Linked DNA regions of Homo sapiens. The protein of the gene in region 1 purifies or fractionates together with the protein of each later gene. This does not show direct contact. Each region holds a gene or a part of one and is shown in the gene's direction. Other genes may lie near its edges.

Evidence for each region. The genes of interacting proteins can lie anywhere in the genome.
Region 2: the proteins of KRT81 (region 1) and FAM83D purify together in Homo sapiens (affinity purification with mass spectrometry; one large-scale study listed by BioGRID and IntAct). This does not show direct contact.
Region 3: the proteins of KRT81 (region 1) and OMA1 purify together in Homo sapiens (affinity purification with mass spectrometry; one large-scale study listed by BioGRID and IntAct). This does not show direct contact.
Region 4: the proteins of KRT81 (region 1) and IFFO1 purify together in Homo sapiens (affinity purification with mass spectrometry; one large-scale study listed by BioGRID and IntAct). This does not show direct contact.

What each region holds. Positions count from the first base shown.
Region 1 is NC_000012.12:52,283,836-52,288,534, reverse strand, and holds the end of KRT81 (keratin, type II cuticular Hb1), read left to right. Parts: intron 1-78; coding exon 79-174; intron 175-386; coding exon 387-551; intron 552-813; coding exon 814-939; intron 940-1,212; coding exon 1,213-1,433; intron 1,434-1,712; coding exon 1,713-1,744; intron 1,745-2,041; coding exon 2,042-2,280; 3' UTR 2,281-2,622; downstream 2,623-4,699.
Region 2 is NC_000020.11:38,935,968-38,941,044, forward strand, and holds part of FAM83D (protein FAM83D), read left to right. Parts: intron 1-5,077.
Region 3 is NC_000001.11:58,504,099-58,509,175, reverse strand, and holds part of OMA1 (metalloendopeptidase OMA1, mitochondrial precursor), read left to right. Parts: intron 1-2,966; coding exon 2,967-3,116; intron 3,117-5,077. UniProt on the Homo sapiens protein: Metalloprotease that is part of the quality control system in the inner membrane of mitochondria. Activated in response to various mitochondrial stress, leading to the proteolytic cleavage of target proteins, such as OPA1, UQCC3 and DELE1.
Region 4 is NC_000012.12:6,548,415-6,553,491, reverse strand, and holds part of IFFO1 (non-homologous end joining factor IFFO1), read left to right. Parts: intron 1-1,988; exon of another isoform or gene 1,989-2,094; intron 2,095-2,490; coding exon 2,491-2,551; intron 2,552-2,701; coding exon 2,702-2,797; intron 2,798-3,595; coding exon 3,596-3,736; intron 3,737-4,007; coding exon 4,008-4,016; intron 4,017-4,642; coding exon 4,643-4,824; intron 4,825-4,946; coding exon 4,947-5,067; coding exon of another isoform or gene 5,068-5,077. UniProt on the Homo sapiens protein: Nuclear matrix protein involved in the immobilization of broken DNA ends and the suppression of chromosome translocation during DNA double-strand breaks (DSBs).

The sequences.
Region 1 (4,699 bases):
GGAATGGATGGGCAGAGAGAGGAGTCTGGGGGCTGGATCACCAGGGTCCTTGAGCTCCAACACTCCCCACCTTTCCAGGATGTGGACTGCGCCTACCTCCGCAAGTCAGACCTGGAGGCCAACGTGGAGGCCCTGATCCAGGAGATCGACTTCCTGAGGCGGCTGTATGAGGAGGTGCGGGCTCAGGGGCCAGACAGAAACCTGGCAGCCAGCAGAGAGGAGAGTTGGGGGTGGGAGTGTTGGACAGGATGTGGGTAGAGGTTGCAGTCCCTGAGGCTGTGTGAGGGGGCAGGGTTGGGGACCAGAGAAAGCCTGAGGAGGTGGAGTCAGGACATGGTGGGTGGGGCTGTATTCTCAACTAAAGTCACTGCCCTCACCTCCTGCAGGAGATCCTCATTCTCCAGTCGCACATCTCAGACACCTCCGTGGTTGTCAAGCTGGACAACAGCCGGGACCTGAACATGGACTGCATCATTGCCGAGATTAAGGCACAGTATGACGACATTGTCACCCGCAGCCGGGCCGAGGCCGAGTCCTGGTACCGCAGCAAGGTGAGTGGCACAGGACACCTGCCTGCTAGACGTGTCAGTGGGAGGGATGTGAGATATCTATTAAATAGGCTTCCTTTTCTGGGGATGCTGGTCCCTAGGGATGAGAAGAGAGGGCTGCCAATCTGAGGTTGGGGTGGCAGGGCAGGACTGCCATGTGTGGCTGCACAGGCTGAGCACTGTACAACCTGCAAAATCATCTGTGGTGTCCTGAATGGATGGGAGGTCCCACCCTGAACCTCATGAGCATCTCTACTTCCCCCAGTGTGAGGAGATGAAGGCCACGGTGATCAGGCACGGGGAGACCCTGCGCCGCACCAAGGAGGAGATCAATGAGCTGAACCGCATGATCCAAAGGCTGACGGCCGAGGTGGAGAATGCCAAGTGCCAGGTATGGGGCATCTGTGCGCAAGGTCAGAGAGACCGAGGGCCTAACCATTGTCACACAGCCTATGTGTGCCCTACCTGGATCTCAGCATTCATTCTCCACCCCCTTTGTCCATGTAGAGTCCCTGGTCGTGGTCTCTCAATGAGTCCCAGGTGATAAAGGCAAGAGGCTCTGTTCTGGGGTGCTCCCAGCTTGGTGGGGAGTGTGGTCTCATTTGGATGAGCATCAGAGAGACCCAGGGACTCTAATCTACCTTGTTCTTTCTGTTCTCTTCAGAACTCCAAGCTGGAGGCCGCGGTGGCCCAGTCTGAGCAGCAGGGTGAGGCGGCCCTCAGTGATGCCCGCTGCAAGCTGGCCGAGCTGGAGGGCGCCCTGCAGAAGGCCAAGCAGGACATGGCCTGCCTGATCAGGGAGTACCAGGAGGTGATGAACTCCAAGCTGGGCCTGGACATCGAGATCGCCACCTACAGGCGCCTGCTGGAGGGCGAGGAGCAGAGGTGGGTCCAACCAAGGGTGGCCCAGAACCACCCTTCCCCATCCCTGGCACAAGCCTACCCTTGGCCTTGGCTGAGCAATGGCCAGGGCTCTGGGGGAAAAAAATATTATTATTCACTTCCGGTGTGGGGAGGGCTGGTGTGTGAGTTTGTCTGAGGCAAGCTGTTCCCTCAGACTCTGTTCTTAATTGACCAGTTGTGGACCCTACCCTATGAACTGGGGAGCTTTTTCAGCCACTCTGGGGCAGTCACTAATGTTGCCTTTTTCTCTTTTGCCCTCAGGCTATGTGAAGGCATTGGGGCTGTGAATGTCTGTGAGTATTTGGGGTCCAGTGTGGACAGATTTACTAACTACCTGTGATGGAGGGCAGAGTTTGGAAAAAGGAGTGTTACTGAGATTGAATATAAAAGAGTGGGCTGGCATCACAACAGGAGGGATTTGGGGTCAGACATCCAAAAGACCCCAGCTCTTGGACTAGATGGACCTAGAATTGTCCACAAAGATGCTTCTGACTTTTCATACCAGAGCTCAGGTCTTGGGCAGGGGCGGTTGTCAGGAAGGCAGGATGGCTTGCCCTTCAGAATTTTGACTCAGCCTTCGGGGTTCACAGGTGTCAGCAGCTCCCGGGGCGGGGTCGTGTGCGGGGACCTCTGCGTGTCAGGCTCCCGGCCAGTGACTGGCAGTGTCTGCAGCGCTCCGTGCAACGGGAACGTGGCGGTGAGCACCGGCCTGTGTGCGCCCTGCGGCCAATTGAACACCACCTGCGGAGGGGGTTCCTGCGGCGTGGGCTCCTGTGGTATCAGCTCCCTGGGTGTGGGGTCTTGCGGCAGCAGCTGCCGGAAATGTTAGGCACCCCAACTCAAGTCCCAGGCCCCAGGCATCTTTCCTGCCCTGCCTTGCTTGGCCCATCCAGTCCAGGCGCCTGGAGCAAGTGCTCAGCTACTTCTCCTGCACTTTGAAAGACCCCTCCCACTCCTGGCCTCACATTTCTCTGTGTGATCCCCCACTTCTGGGCTCTGCCACCCCACAGTGGGAAAGGCCACCCTAGAAAGAAGTCCGCTGGCACCCATAGGAAGGGGCCTCAGGAGCAGGAAGGGCCAGGACCAGAACCTTGCCCACGGCAACTGCCTTCCTGCCTCTCCCCTTCCTCCTCTGCTCTTGATCTGTGTTTCAATAAATTAATGTAGCCAACCTGGGTCTTGTGTGTGTCTCTATTACCCTCCTCAGGGGTCGGGGTTAGGGAGGGTCCCCAAAGTCACATGGAGCAGCAAAAGGCCAAGCCAAGGGTCTCCAGTACAGTTTTCTATCCCCCGCCTCATAGAAGGTTCAGATTTAGCCAAGAGTTGTGCTAGGCCCCTATTTGATGTAACTTTATCCACACAACCCTAATGATACACCTTGCAGATGAAGAAGCCAGAACTCAGAGGCACTCAATAATTGGGGCAGGGTCACCCACTTAGTTGGGTGGTTCATCTGGGGTTTAAGCCCTGTGTGTGTCGCTAGTGCTCATTTCACTAAACTGCAGCTGTCTCTCAGAAAACATCTCATGCATATCTGCAAACTGATGGATCATGAAAATCAGATTCACCAATCACTCAAAGCTTGAGGCAACATCACCCATTGCTTTGGTAGGGAAGACTCATGCCTGAGTAATTTATTGGAATTCTTTAAGAGGTGAATACATGAATATGATTTAAAGTTTCAAAAAGCCTTTGATGTTGGCTTTCTTTTTTTTTTTTTTAAATGGCATCACTCTGGGGTTTTGGAGACCTGCCACAGCTGATACATTTTCCTCAAAGACAGAAAACAGCACATAGCAAGATGATGTGGCATAGAGGGGGGACACGGACTCCAGCCAGACTGCCTGGGCCCCAAGCTGGGCCCTGGTCCTTCCTAGGTGAGTGGGTTGGGCAATGTATTTACCCTCTCTGTGCCTGTTTCCACACCTCCAAAATGAGGATGATAGAAAGGGCAACCACCTCATAAGTTGATGAGTTAAAGGATTTCATATACGTAAAAGGTTTAGATGGTGCATGCCACAAAATTATCACTCTATTTTTTATCATTAGTGTTATTCTTTTGCAGAATGTAAAGTAGAAGTCCCTCTAGGGATCAGGGCCTCTTATGGCCAACCTCTTATTACATTGATATCTGTGATCAGAGATTGCAAGTACAGAGAGAAACCTCCGTGGTTACCAGGGCCATTCAGCTCCTTCATGCATGGAAGTATTAACTTGACACTGACGAGGTAGGGGAAGGGGAAGATGACAGCTCAGCCCCACTATGGGCCAAGGTGACTCCCTGAACATACATCTTTAAGCCGGAGTGAATCTCTAAACTTCCAGTCCAAGGCCCAGAAAATACAGCAGAAATGGGAGTCCCCCACCCCTACCCTTCTGGGCACTAGAAATTATTAAGAATATTAAGAGACCAGAAGTGAGTGGACTGAAAAGAACAAATTCTCCTGTAAAAGCTAGAATCAAACCAAGGTCTCTCAGCCACCCCTGATGGAATTCTGAGAGGGACACAATCCTAGAAAGTTCCAGAATTTGTGATCAATCATTCCAACCAGCCCTGTATGCTGTGACATCACACAGCTCAGAAGCTGGCCCTAGGCCAGGTGCAGTGGCTCACACCTATAATCTCAACACTTTAGGAGGCCAAGGTGAAAAGATCGCTTGAGCCCCAGAGTTAGAGATCAGCCCAGACAATACAGTGAGACTCTATCTCTATAAAATATAAAAATATTAGCTGGGCGACGTGGTGTGCACCTATAGTCCCAGCTACTTAGGGGGCCGAAGCAGGACAGCTTGAGCCCAGGAAGTTGAAGCCGCACAGTGAGCCATGTTTGTGCCACTGCCTCCAGCGTGGGCGACACAGCAAGACCCTGTTTCAAAAAAATAAAAAAACAAGAAGCAGCAGCAGCAGCAGCAGCCCCTGTCAGGAGTCCAGACCTGAGACTCAAGCACCAGCTCCATCCCTCCCTAGTTCAGAAGCCAACTACAACTCCAGTCCTGATGGACTTCTCACCTATTCCAACTTCAGCCTAGCTGGGCCTTAGTGACCTGCCGTATTTCACTCCCTCACTCTCCCTCTAGCTCTGACCCTCTCTTCCTTCCTACTCCGGCCCCACAATCCTCACCTCCCTCTAGGTTCCCATTCCTGCACAGGCTCAGACAGAGGAGCAAGGCGGGAAGGAATCAAACACATAATGCCCCGGGTGCAGAATGGTGAAGAAAATGGAACATCTCACTGTGTGACCTTTAGC
Region 2 (5,077 bases), on another chromosome or scaffold:
GAGGGTCCTGAGAGAGTTAGGAGAGGAAGTGAAGGGTCAATGGAGGCCATGTGGTCAGCTGGGAGAATGCAGCAGCCAGGATGTTATTGACCACAGCACAGGCTGACATTGAGTGGGTGCAGATCTTTGGTGGAATTCCAAGCATGTTGCACACCTGACCTCACTTTATGACTCTGGGAGGGAAGGGAGGGAAACTGAGGTGCAGTGAGAAGGGGTGATCGGTACGAACTTCCTCCTTCACACAGAGGAAGAAGAGCTAGAATGAGAACTGGAATGACTGGCCCTGAGGGGCCTGTTGGGGCTGCACATGTGCCTGGTCAGAGCCTAGACCTGCCCATTGAGTGTGTATGAATCACTGACTTCGCAGAGCTGGAAGGGTTCCTTGTTTCAAGGACACCGAGACTCAGATGGAATGGCTTGTCCAGGGATAGTGACGGAATCGGGACTAAGAATATGAGTAGCTGCCATTTAAGGGCTTTCCATATGCCAGGAACTGCCAGCAAACACTATGAGATAGGTACTGTCAATCATCCGTGGTGAGCTTGAGCCCATGCACTTCATGGGCTACGCCACTGATCCTTTAGTGTTTGTTCTAAGCTTCCAGTCATGTGAAAAACTGCCCATTAAACTTGGTTGGAATGATATAAAATACTGAGTATAGTACTTTTTTTAGATGGCTCCGGAGTCACAGAGACCTGGGTTGAAATTCCAGCCCTTGTACTTGTTTAAGTTTGTCACCTTGAACAAGCTACCTAACCTCTCCAAGCTTTGGCTTTCTCATCTATAAATTGGGGATGACAGGTAATGGGGTTTTGAAATTTCTAGATAGCACTTTTGAGCTTTTGTGCAAGAAGGCAAGCAGAAAAGAGTTCAGTTCTATGTGGCAAGTAACATAAACAGGGTCTGTGACCTTCCCAGAGACCAAGAAGGCCATCATGACGTCTGCTGTTCAACTACATAGGTTCCCAAGTCCCTTGGTACAAATCAGGAGGGGACAGGTAGAAGGACTGAGAGAGGTAGGCTTGTGATTTGTTACCTGAGATGATGATGTGAGAGTGGACACACATGCAGCTGCTCCAGATATGGCTGGAGAAGTGCAGGAACAGTGGGGTCCTGGTCAGCAGGCCGGCCATTATGCCCCTGACCAGCTGGATGCGTCCTCCTCACGTCTCCTGTTGTAACTGACTTGCACTGAGTTGCAAATTGCAAATGGGTGTTGACCCTGGAAGGGACTCTTGAAAGTCACCACTCTCACGACTTTCTAGTCCTTAGAGAGTGGGTGGGCTCCATGCAGCACAGACTGGGAGAGTGCCATGACTGTGGGCACTTGATGTGCAAGGGCTGCCTGCCTTCCAGACATGCCATTGTCCTTCGCACATTATTGCCTCCAGGAGTGGGAGCAGTGGCCAAATACACATCAGGTGTATTTCTGGACCCACAGGCTGCAGCAAGAGCACCGGATACCTAGGAGTTGCATCCTGGCTTGGAAAGCAGGACTCGGCCGGTTAGTGGATGAGTCCAGGTCATTGCTCAGCTCAGTGAAGAGAGTGTCCCTTCAGTCTAGCCCCAGGTCTACTTCAGCTATGCAGGGATTGGTTGCATGAGGGCTGGGACACAGGAATGGGGGATGGGGATGGGGATTTGAAGGAAGACTTCCCTACTGATTGCTTCTACAGTAGGACTATGGACTTTTCCTCTGTAAAAGACAAGTACTTTTGGCTGGGCATGGTGGCTCATGCCTGTAATCTCTGCACTTTGGGAGGCCAAGGTGGGTGGATCACTTAAGCTCAGAAGTTGGAGACCATCCTGGGCAACATGGTGGGATTCTGTGTCTACAAAAATTAGCCAGGTGTGGTGGCGTGTGCCTGTAGTCCCAGCTACTTGGAAGGCTGAGGTGGGAGGATTGCTTGTGCTTCAGAGGCGGAGGTTGCAGTGAGCCGAGATCACACCACTGCACTCCAGCCTGGGCGACAGGGTGAAACTGCATCTCCAGAAACAAAAAAATAGACGAATATTTTTAAGAGTCCTGCTTTAGTAAGAAAGGAGTGGATGCTGGGTGTAGGGGAAGTCAGGGGAAGAAAAAAACCTCCATCAACCCTACGCACCCTGATGGTGTTAAGGACTAGTGTTCAAATCCAACGCACAGGAAAGGGTGAGGCTTTAAAACCAAACAATGGAACAAATAGCAAATTAGGTATTTACTCACCATATAACAAAGGTGTTGCACAATTGTTTTGTTAAGTGGTGAATCAAAATTCAGCTTGGCCGTGCCTTGTGCTGTGGGCCCCCAGGCCCATGCCCCTGCCTCCAGCAGGTCTCTAATCCAGCAGCTGGGCTGGGTTTTTCTGATCTCTGTTCCAGTAGCACTGAGGGAACGTGTCCTTTGGCCCGTCACACTCTGTTACCCCTGGCTTGTCTCCTGTCTCATTAGACTGCGTTCTTGAGGACAGGGATTGACACTAGATCCTCAGTGCTCAACACCTGCCTGCCTCGATTGGGTCCACAATGAAGATTTGAAAGAAGAGTGGGAAATCAGAGAGGCAAGCAGGTGTGTGCATTTTCCTCTTTAGCTTTCTCCTGTGAGCTCTACTCTCATTTGTACACCTGCATATTCCAAACCTCTTTTTGAAGGTTTTACTGCCACCTCAAAATCCGTTTCGAAGCTCACCCCTCACTCTTGCTTCTTGTCTTGTGTTTCCTGTTTCCTTGTATCTGAATATCCCTCTCCCTGTCATCCTCAGCCCATGTCGCCCACTGCTCGGCTCTCCCATGATCTCCTTCCCTCTTCTGCAACCCTCATTGCTTCTGCCGTGCTACTGATTTGTCTTCATCTGGTCTCTAGTCCTCCTAAACATTTATTGAAGTTGCTTAACCTAAAGAATATCCACGTGACTGCTGTGTTGCAGGTCCTGTGTTGGAGGAGGTGGGCCCAGATCTCTGACCTATACCAATCTCTTCTGGCATCAGTTTCTTCCATCCTGTTGGATTCTTCACTTCGAACTCATTACTCTTATACAGGCAATGTGGGGAAGATTGAAACTGATTCCTTGGTTGGCATTCAGGGCCTTCTGTGATCTTGCTCATTCATCCGTCTTTTCCAGTCATGTCCCGTGGCTCCCTTTCATGCATGCTGTACGTTCCAGCCAGACTGGTACATACCCCGTCATGCCCTACCTCTTCCTCTGTTATCATGTGGCTTCCTGCGGGAATGCCTTCTCCTCCCTTCACTTCTCCCATGCCCTTGTCCAAATTTTGTCCTTGTGCTTCAGCTCAAATGCCATCTCCTCCAGGAAGCCTTCCCTGCTCTTATCTGGTAAGCATTTGAGTACCTATAGTGCCCATAGTCCACCACTGGAGGAGACACCTTGTTTTTGTTTTGTTTTGTTTTGTTTTGTTTTTTGAGATGGAGTCTTGCTCTGTTGCCCAGGCTGGAGTGCAGTGGTGCGATCTCGGTTCACTGCAACCTTCACCTCCCAGGGTCAAGTGATTCTTGTACCTCAGCCTTCCTAGTAGCTGGGATGACAGGTGCATGCCACCATGTTCATCTAATTTTTTGTATTTTTAGTAGAGATGGGGTTTTACCGTGTTGGCCGGGCTGCTCTCAAACTCCTGACCTCAGGTAATCCACCCACCTCGGCCTCCCAAAGCACTGGGATTACAGGCATGAGCCATCATGCCCGGCCCCCTTAGTTTAATTGCTTAGGCTGTATATATCATTTTGCCTCTCTGCATCCTGTGTCCTCTCCTTGAGGTAAGTTGGGTCTATGTCAAATTCCTCATAGCCATCTTTCTGCCTAGTGCAGTGTGCAGCCCACAGCGTGCTCTGAGGAGGTGCTGGCTGCATAATAGCACCTGTTTCCTGCCTTGCCCTCCCTGTGCTAAGCCCTTTCCATGCTTTGTTTCACTTAATCCTCACAGCAGCCCTTTGACCCAGATGCTATTAATTTTGTCTTCCTGAGGAGGAAACTGAGGCTCAGAGAGATTAAGCCACTTGCCCAGGGTCACACAGCTGGTAGGTGGTAGAGCTGGGTTCTATGCCCAGAACTTTTGCCTTTAATTCCTGTTGTATGACCCGAATGAGTGGGATGAATAGAACTGTCAAAATAGGATGTGTAAAGCCAGTGGAGGATGTAAACTTCAGAGGATGCCACAAATTCAGAAAGAACGCTTCTCATTTTTTAAATCACTGTGTTCAGTGGGTTTCAGCCATGCCCTTTACCAAGAATAGCCCACAGCTTAGACCATCATTAAAAGGGGTGGGGTGGGAAAGGCAGCAGGAGAGTAACTGGTCTTCTCAACCCCCTCACAGCAATGACTTCCCAGGAACTGGTGTTTCAGGGTCTCACATCCTAGTAGACCAGGCCCTGGAGTGTTGGAGAAAGACAGCCAAATTGCCTTTTTGCCTCTTCATTCCTTCTTTAATCCCCCAAATCCTTAAGGAGTCATGACTGTCATATACTGTCCTAAGTCCTCTGGGACCACAGAAATGACTCAATCCCATTCAAGAGCCTTTGCTGCAGGAGAAGGAGTGAAACCCATAAATGAATAATCCTAACTTTCAGAAAAAGAGTTAATGTGATTCTGAGAGACAGGCTTTTACTGTGGAAATGGGGAGGAAGGAGAAACCCTTATATCTCCAGACTACAGAAGAGCCCCCAAGCCTCGGCTTCCTTAGTTAACACCCCCAACTTCTGACTCAGTTTGTCAGGACCTGTTTCTAAGCCTGGAGGTTTGGACACCCCCACTGCCCTGCCAGGAGTTTGCTGAGGACCTTGGTTTTAAGCCTGCAAAAGGTGTGATTAGAGGCATTGTGGCAGGAGCAGCCTGTCTTTAAAAGAGCGAGGAAAGCTAGGCGGTGTCTCCCTGTGTTGAACTGTCTGGACGGCTCCAGCTCTGGACTGGTAAAGTGAATAAACGAGCAGATACTAAGGGATCCTTTGTACCTTGCACTTTATGTAACATAGTCATTTAGTTCTCGATACAACCCTATTTTGCAGCTAAGGAAACAGACATTTGAAACAGCTGTAATTTGCCCAGGAATGCATGGCTAAAAGGTAGCTCTTAATTGTAGTCTGAT
Region 3 (5,077 bases), on another chromosome or scaffold:
TTTCTCTGTTTATTTTTTTCACTCTTATTGTTGATATCTACACATTAGGAAAAAACAGCAACCTCTTAGCCTTTACAGACTGTCTTTGTACAGGAGAAGATCTTCACCAGTCAGCACAGCAGAGATTCCCAGAACCTCTCAAACCTTCATGCTAGTCCAAAGTGCTGTCTTTGTTCTTAGTGGTGCCTAGGTGTCTAGGGTCCTGTCTGGTCCATCTGGTCCATATGCTGGGTCCTATCAGTGCTACAAGACAGATGAGACAGAAGCCAGTCCCTTGGACAGCCCTCAGAAATGTTAGAATGTTGGACACGTGATCTACCTCTTTCCCGAGCCCTGCCCCAGGAGAAGCTGGGCTCTGGAGTTTCTCTCCAACTCATTTCATGCTGAGCTTCAGGGAGTGGTCATGGCAACTGCTTGTGTGCTTGTTCAAACTTCTGTCACATTATCACTGGCCCCTAGATATCTAGGGCGTTTTAGATTCCATCAGTGCTACAAGGCTGGCAAGACAGAAGCCAGTTCCTAGGGCAGCTCTTAGAAAAGTTGGAATGTTAGATACACAAGCCAAGTTTTTCCTTCCCCAAGGAGTGGTGGGGAGCTGCAGGTGTTCTTATGATCATATGGTGCTGTATTGGGGGTACATAATTGCTCTCGCAGATTATGGCAAGAGGGTGTCTCCAGTCTTCTACCAGGTTTGATGTTGTTCATTTCGTACTTGTGCAGGTGCAGAAGCATTGCACCTAGTTTCAGGATTTCTCACAAAGGGAATTCGTATATTATCGTTGAATCAGTGTGTTCATGTGGGGAAGGAGGGTTTAGGGCGTCCTATTCTTCCATCTTGCTGATGTCAACCTGTTACTTATTTTTCCTAAATTGGAAAAATGTAAATAAAATACTCATTTTGGAAACAAAATTATCTGACTTTAGTGGCTCTTTGAACTGGGTTTGAGAAGTACAGACAAACTCAACACTCTTATCTTAACATTAAAGTAGATATCTCAAGTCCCCTTTTAATACTTTTAGCTTGGAATACTTTCTAGTCTGTAGGGATAATTAATTTCTTTTTCTATTTCTGCATATCAAATATTGCTTTAAAGATTCCCTTCAGCTGTGTTACTTAGAGATTGAATAGGGAAATATTTTGTCTTTTGATTAACAGTTTTAGGCTAAAAAAATTAGATAAGTATGCCTTTGGTTTGTGTAGCAGACAAACTTCATGTTAGATAATTCGTGAATTTGTAGTCCATTCAAATGTTTATCTTCCAGTTTTCAGAGGGGTTTTTTGTTTGTGTTAGAATTCTTTCAAGTCATTTTATATTTTTATGAATTATTTGAGAAGAATACTTGTTAATCTCAGCCTGTATTTTTATTGTGAATGTGATTACCTATTATTGAGGGGCATAGTCCTCTGGGTGTTTCTAATTCAGCATCAAATAATTATTTCTTTATAGATACATATGTTACATACATATTTTACACATAAGCACACACACATCTTGCATATATAGATATGTATTTATATGTGTATAAACATGAATAATATTTATGTTTGTTATATACATTTATCTTGTATATTCCTGTTTATATACATATAAACATGTATATCCATATCTGTGCAGTAGTGTATAAAGTACCTTGAATTCTTTTCAACTTAGAATACTCAGAGGTCTTAAGGAATTATATTTCTTTAAATATTGAATAAGATTTACTTGAATTTAAAATTTTTTATTTTGCTAACATTTGGAAATGCTTTAATGGTATTTGTTAAGAAATGATGTAGCATGGTTGTTGACTAGCATGCAGTGTTCTATTAATATATTTGCCTTTTGGGGTTTCACAATTACACTATTATAAATCTTTTTGAGAGTACATTTTAGTCAGTATAGTATATATATTTTTTCTTAGTTTTAATCAAAAATAAAATCATTGGGAAATATAACCACTTGTTTTCCAGTTACTTATTATAGAAAGAATAAGTTAAGAAATGTGAATAAATTGAACAAATTAATAAAATATTTGTTAATAATCCACCTTATGGAGGATTTAAAAATAATTTTAATTATAAAATAATGTATTTTAATATAGTTCAGAAATAAAAGTGTTGCTCCCTCTCCACTATCAGATACCTCAGGTACATTCTTAGGGTAGTTAACAGCTTCTTAAATAGCTTCTCAGATATGTTCTGTGCATATACAAGTATATACGTATGAGTATGTATATGAGTGTATGATGGAATTGTACATACACAAGATCTACATATATTCTTTTAAAAAGTACTAATGTACTTTTATATTGTACTTTTATAAGGTATTGTGTTTTATAAGGTATATGAATTAAATATATTGTCCATATACATTGAGAAAATTGGGTAAATTGATGTGCATAATAAACATGTCATCTCTTTATGTTTATTTGAAGTTTTTTTCTGATTGTTCTAGTGGCATAGAAGTAAAGTTTCTTTAATACAGTTTAATAACATTATATTTTAAAACTTTATGAAAACAGAATTTTTAATTTGTGTAAAAGATTTTACCCTTAATACATGTTCTTAATATCCATCATACTGAAAATAGTGGGCTATCTTTGGTTAGCAGGGTTATTGTGAATGTTGTATATGGGAAGGGCAGGCATTCTGTTATTTCAGTACTGTGATACCATGTTGTTTGAGGTGGGTCTTTTTCTAAGCAATGGGCATGTTCTACTTTTATTAAAGTGATGATAGAAAATGACTTTAAAGCATGTAGTGACATAAAGTTGTTAGGAGATATAACTAATGCTAAATGACGAGTTAATGGGTACAGCACACCAACATGGCACATGTATACGTATGTAACAAACCTGCACGTTGTGCACATGTACCCTAAAACTTAAAGTATAATTATAATAGAATTAAAAAAAAATAAAGTAGTAGTTTTTAAAAAATCCTCAAAACTGAGCTCATTGTGTGGTTTTACTAATTTTGGTTTTAGGCTTGTGCAGACATAAGAGCCAGTTCAGTGTTTTGGCAGCAAATGGAGTTCGTTGATAGCCTGCATGGCCAACCCAAGATGCCAGAATGGTTATCTACACACCCTTCTCATGGCAATCGAGTTGAGTACTTGGATAGACTTATACCTCAGGTGAGCTGACACCGTAGAAGGCGGGACATTATTTTTACTGTATCATTTATTTTTAATGCTGTCACTTCTTTTGCTTAGTAAAAGAGAGTTCTAGCCTATTAACTATTTTGATTACTATAATTATGGATTATCAGTTGTCACAGAATTTGACTGAAAAGCAAAATTCTGCTTGTCCACAAGTCTTGGAGAATAAATTACTATGTACAGTTGACTTTTCTTAATAGTGAAGGTTTAACTCCTTTAGTATGAGACTTTAATTTTAACTGACTTGATGAAAGTTTAAAACTCAAGGCATATTAAGTTTTTTAAACATGTTGATGATAATTTAATCTTTCCTTGGTGATTTAAGCTTTTTGTTAAAAATACCAGTTAATGAGTTGTACAGAAGTTTTGGGTCAAGTGGATATTAATTGTAGTAGTGGTACTGGAATTTGTTTTTTTAGGAAAAAAAATCTTCATGTTTGTTTCTGGTTATTTATTTCTTTATGAAGATAAGAGTGAAGCATTTGCTCTCTGGCTTTTCTTTCTGTAGAATTCATAAGTGGGTCAAGCTGAGGCGGCTTTCTGCCAAGTAGTTTTCAGTATCCTCTGAAAATCTTTTGATTTGTTGACATCATTCAGAATGTTTTTATGGTTTCCATATCAGGACAAAATGGATGTTAGGCATCTCTGAGCCACGTTACACGCTCTCTTCTATCTCACTTGTATTAAATTTGGTGGCTTGTTATGAAAGCGGAACATTTTTTAGCAATTTAAGAATTGGTACTGGGCCATGTGCTAAGGCATAGCACAACAGATCCAGGTGTATTATAGAAGTATCTTTCTCATGCCTGTTATCCCAGCATTTTGGGAGGCTGAGGTGGGTGGATCACCTGAGGTCAGGAGTTCGAGACCAGCCTGGCCAACGGGGTGAAACCCTGTCTCTACTGAAAATACAAAATTAGGCGGGCGTGGTGGCATGCGCCTGTAATCCCAGCTACTCGGGAGATTGAGGCAGGGGAATCGCTTGAACCCTGGAGGCAGAAGTTGTAGTGAGCCGAGATCGTGCCACTGCACTCTAGTCAGCGACAGGGTGAGACTCTGTCTCAAAAAAAAAAAAGAAGTATCTTTCAGTATGACTTCAAATTCAGCCCAACAAATACGGAGTACCTCTTAAAAGAAAGAAATGATGCTAGATGTGGGGGATACAAAGAGGAATAAGATATGGTTCTTGATATTTACAGGATGCTAAGATAAATAAAAAATGATTATTAGTACAAGGATATGATTTATCATAAGAAAAATAAAAACGGTATGCAGTTTGAAGGAAGATGAATCTGCTTCTAGTTTGGGATAAGAAACTCTAGTGCAAGATTTATTCATTCATTAGGTAGATCGATATTTATTGATACTTATTGATTAATCTACTATTCTGTGTTCTATTGCTGGGGAATGAGCAAGGAACAAAACAGTCTGTTTTCTTGGAGTTAACATTCTAGTTAGGTAATGCAAATAAGAAACAAACATATAGTATGCCAAGCAATAATAAGTACCTTGGGAAAAAATAAAGCAGATTAAAGGTATTAGAGAGGGGTGGGCAGCAGAGAAGGGGTACTAGTCTATGTTCGGTTGTCAAGGAAGGCCTCACTAATCAGAATCCGGAAGGAAGCACGGGAGCAAGTCCTTTAGCTGTGTGGAGGGAGAGAGAGCCTTTTAGGCTGAGGAAGCAGCTGATGCAGAGAACCTAAAGTCAGCGTATGTTTGATGTGTTCAAGGAATAGCAAGGAAGACATTGGGGCTGAATGGAGTAAGGGAAGGGAAGAACAGTTCAAGATGAGGTGAAAGGGGACCAGACCACGCAGGATCTTCTAAGCCATTGTAAGGACTTGACTTTCACTTCAAGTGATAGGAGAAGCTAGTTGAGGATATTGAGCAGAGGAGTGACTTGATTTGACTCATGTTTTATTGTGATCACTGGCATT
Region 4 (5,077 bases), about 46 Mb from region 1:
GGGAGTTTCAGTTGTCCTGAAATCATCGTTCTGCCACCCAGAACCAGCCTGCTCTGCCCCTGCAGGAGTTAACTACGCGCTCAGCAGTGGCACAGGCACAGTTCTGGAATACATCCATAACCACAGGAACAACTGCTGTTCTCAGGAGCATTTTTTTTTTAAACTGAAGGAGCGTTTGTCCTTGGTCCAGCTGTCCAGGACAGGAAGGAGTTATTCCTTGGGGACTGATTAGCTCATCGCTCTGCAGCACGCTGCTGTGTAGAGAGCCTTAGCTGGATTCGGATGGTGCGTGATACTGGCAGTGACTCTTCTTCCTCCCTAGATTCCCTGCCCTCATTCTGGTCTCTTTATAGCAACACTGTAACTCCTGTCTTCTGCCTGGAAGGCCTGGGATGGCTTGAGCGCTACACTGGGAGGTAGCTAAAGGCCTCCTGCGTTCTATTTTCAGCTCCCCTGCCTTGTGCGTGACCTTTTTTTGAGCCCCCATTTTCCCAACATAGGAATGGTCCCTGCTTTCTCTCTTCAACCCAGGGATACAGTTTTTTGGAAGAGAGATATTTGGTCCATGCAGAACACATGGATATCGCTCTCAAATTCTGCCCATGTTAAGGGAACCTTATAAGTGAGACCAGATGGAAATGGAGGTGAAAATGAACCTGTCTGTGTGAAGTCTGGCCAAAGAACAAATAGAACTGTAGTGGGCTTCCAGATGATTCATTTGTAGATTTTTTTTACCCTGTAAGATTTCCTTAGGCTTAACCTTTAGCTATAACTGCCTTACTTAAGTTTCTTCCAGGCTCTGTTGAGCTCACTGTCAGATAGCCCCTCCTGCCCTCTTTCACACATCTTGTCCAGGGTTAGCGTGCCCTTGACAGGCTTACTGTCTCCCTCCAGGGACTCGTGGGCTCCCGGCGCATGAGGGCACCACAGTTCATGCCTTCACATCATAGATGAAGAAACCAAGACCCAGAAAAGATAAGGGTCTTAGCTAAGAAAACATAATCTGATGCGACTGGTTCCCTTAGTGGCCTGACTGTATGCATGAGAATGCCAGGGAGGAGGGGAGAAGCACCTACGGGACACACAGGGAAGGGGGCTGGGAGCCAGGAAGGCTGGGAGCTGGGCTGTGTGGGGAGCCAGCAGGGTGGTGGCTGGGCTGGCTGCCTCCTCCTGCTCTGCCCAGCAGGGAGGGGCAGTCGAGGTGATGTGGAGGAGTTATTATTAGGAATACTGCAGTGCGGCTGTGAATGAGGAGATGGGACCCAGAGGCTGACACAGGAAGGAAGATGGAGGGAAGGGGAAGAAAGGGCTTCACCCAAGGCTTCAGAAGCTGCCCACTCAGATTTTAATTTTCTTGCTGTCTTCTTGGCCCCTTCCTAACCACCTTTCTTGTGTTGAAGTTTCTCTCTTGGTGCAGTTCCCCTCCCTTCTCGGGTTGACAGAAGTGATGAGCTCACAGGAACAGGATTTGAGATGTGCTGCTACGCCAGCTAGACTGCAGGGCCCTGGAATGCCGGGCGGGTCCTAAGCAGCACGTTGCCCTGGCTTCCATCTCTGTGATGGAATAGAATATGCACTGCCTGCCATGGCTGATGAGACATGACAAAGCTGGCTCTGGGAAGCATGCCCTACCTAGGACCCTGCCCTGTGGCCCAGGGTGTCGTCCGGCCCACTTGCAGTCTTAATCTCTGAATTCTGGGCCCTGGAACAGGCTGTGTCTAGTTCTCATTTGCCGTACTCACCGGGCCCCTTTACATACTCTACTTTCTCTTTCCCTCTGGGTTTGAGTGCTAGTAACCCCAGGCTCGTGTGTCCACTGCTGTCATGCTGCTGTGGGACTTCCGGCCTCTGAGCCAGTCTGGTCACCTCTCTGTGACTCCCTTAGAGGAGGCTCTGGGTGGGTAGTTTCTGGAGCTAGTGGGGAAGGACTTTGAGTGTCTCCTACCAGGCTCTTGACCCACTCTGTTGATACACTATGTGTCCTGCAGATGCTTTTACAGGGTTAAATGATACCACAAGAGGCAGGGCAGCGGGCTCGACGAGCTCTGTTCTGGTGCGGGCAGGAGGCGGGAGCCCGGATCTGTGCGACTGAAGGTGGGAGACTGGGCCGGGTGGACCTGGTGGTCTGGTGTGGGCAGGAGGTGGGCAATGAGGCCAGCCGGACAGCTGGCTGAGCTGGGGCCTGAGCAGGGATGGGCATCACGGAGGACCGGAGCCTCAGCACTTGCCCAAACAGAGCTCCTGGTGCACAGCCCGGAGGTTCCGGGAAGGCAGCTGGCGAGCTCGACGCCCATCAGGAAGCACAGAGCCGCGTGACAGCTGCAGTTGGTCACCAGCTGGCTGGCCAGGCATTCCTGTGCCCTGCTCCTCCCCATCCAGGGAACCAGAACTGGGGTCTGAGGCCTGAGCCAGAGAGGTGGGGACAGGGAGCCATGGGGGCAGGGAAGGACTCTGTACCTAAGCTCTCTCCGCCCTTCCCATGTCTGTCAGGTGGGAAGAGGAGTACACGGTGCGGATCCAGCTGCAAGACCGTGTAAATGAGCTCCAGGAGGTGAGGGTGGCGCCCCACTTGCTGCTGGTGCTTCCCTGGGTACCCCTGTCTGCCCATGACCCTGCTGCCGTCTCCCTGTCCCTCCTTGGCATCTTTATCTTCCTCCCACCTCGGCAGTGCCACCAACATCAGGGTTTCTCCCAACTGCAGGAAGCCCAGGAGGCTGATGCCTGCCAGGAGGAGCTGGCACTGAAGGTGGAACAGTTGAAGGCTGAGCTGGTGGTCTTCAAGGGGCTCATGAGTAACGTGAGTGCAGCCCCAGGCTTCCCGAGGGTCGAAGTGAGGCTTCTGAGGCCAGAAGAGTAGGCCCTTCTAGTGTTGGCCTGTTGGCCTCCCGTCCACGGCTCCTCCCCTTCTCTTTGCTTTCCTTCCCTTTTTCCCCTAGCCACCCCTAACTCCAGAGAAAGACAAGCAACAAAAGTCTCGGTGTTGCGTCACAGAGGTGGCGCAGCTTCTGAGGGCCTGGGGTTGCAGAGCAGTTAGTGAGCAGCTTCTGGGGTGGAGGCTCTGCAGCTGGCGCCGGGGCGCTGGGCCGATTCCTCAGCCTCTGAGGCCTCACCTTTGGCGTGGGGAAATAAACGCGTGCGCTCTGCAGGAGTATTGTGAGGGTGGTCATGTACTCGGGACAGTGCCCAGCATGCAGTGTTAGCTGGAAGAGTGTTAGCTGTTGCGATTATTATAGTCCTTTCTCCACTCTTATAATTCCCAGGAGTCTCTTTCTCTCTGGGAATGTAAGTTCTAGGAGGATGAGGACCGCTAGTCGTTCCAGTGAGCCCCCTGCATGTCCCAGGCACTGGCCATGCCCTCCAGGGCTTCCGTTTGGCCAGGGAGCAGTGGCCCGAGCCGCCCCATGCCCAGCATATTCACACAGTGCTGTGGGGAGGCCACCGCTACCCAGGAAGAGGGGTGCAGTCAGCTCAGGGAGACTCCACAGAAGAGGCACCGGTGCAATGTGGTGGGAAGGATGAGGACCTTGCCAGGCCTAATTCGTCCTTGTCTGGAGAACTGGGCGCCTCCTCACTGTTCCCTGGGCTCCCTGGACAGAACCTGTCGGAGCTGGACACCAAGATCCAGGAGAAAGCCATGAAGGTGGATATGGACATCTGCCGCCGCATCGACATCACCGCCAAGCTCTGCGATGTGGCTCAGCAGCGCAACTGCGAGGACATGATCCAGATGTTCCAGGTGAGGACGGAGCTGCCCTCTGCTCTCAGGGGTGGGTGGGGCAGGTGGATGCTTCCGTGGCGGCTGGCCTGGAACGCAGGCCCTGCCTCCTGCTTGGGGAGCCTTACCTGGCAACTGGGGCCCTCACGGGGCTAGACTGGGGGGTAAGGAGCAGCATCAGGAGGGGCATCGTGGAAGCTGTCTCTAACGCCGTCTCTCCCTTCCCCCTCTCTCTCCTCTGTCTGCTTCCTCTCCTCTCTTCCTCTCATCTTCTCTCTTGCTTCCTCCACAGAAGAAGCTGGTTAGTTTGATCTCACGCAAGCTTATTAATGTCCCAGTCCCAGTTTCTAAGCTGCCTAGGCCTCCTGGCCCTCAGTTTGGGCCCGCTGGGCTCTTGAGCACGGATTTTTTTCTGCCCTTTCCCTTTTCCTTGCTCTTCCCCCTTTTTCTCTCTATCTCTTGTTCTCTTGACTGCATTTCTTTCTCTCCCTTCTCCCCCGGCTTTCCAGATCTGGATGTGATTCAGGTTCTCTTTTGTACACATTGCACACTCATCCTCCTTGCGTCCTAAAGCTTTTTTTTTTTTAGTTGAGTCATTTAATCAAAAAGACTTTTTTTAGAAAAAAATTTCCTCTTGAGCCATCATGCACATCTGACTGCAGCCCCAGCGAGCCCTTCCTTCCTTGTCTGACTGCTCTTCTTCTCGATTTCTTCTTGTTCTGCCTTCTCGGTTTGCAGCCCTGACCCCCGCTGTGTGTCTGGCCCTTGGTGACTGTCCGTGTTTCTGTTCCTGTCATTGTAACTGTGACTTTTCTCTCTGTCTGCCCCCCCTTCCTACTGGTTCATGCTTCTCCCCCATTCCCACCCTCTCTGCCCGGCCTCCCGCTCCCGCCCTTTCTCCTCATGCACCCGGCCTCGTCTCTGTAGTCTCTGCACTTGTCTCCCATTAAGGTCCCATCCATGGGGGGGCGGAAGCGGGAGCGCAAGGCTGCCGTCGAGGAGGACACCTCCCTGTCGGAGAGTGAGGGGCCCCGCCAGCCCGATGGGGATGAGGAGGAGAGCACAGCCCTCAGCATCAACGAGGAGATGCAGCGCATGCTCAACCAGCTGTGAGTCCGCAGGCCGTGCTCCCGCAGCACCGACGCCACAGCAGCCCAGGAGGCCGGAGCTCCCCAGTCCCCCGCCAGGACGAGGCCCCGCCCGCCCTGACACCCGGGTTCCCTGTCTCTAGGAGGGAGTATGATTTTGAGGACGACTGTGACAGCCTGACTTGGGAGGAGACTGAGGAGACCCTGCTGCTTTGGGAGGATTTCTCAGGCTATGCCATGGCAGCTGCAGAGGCCCAGGGAGAGGTAACCTCTG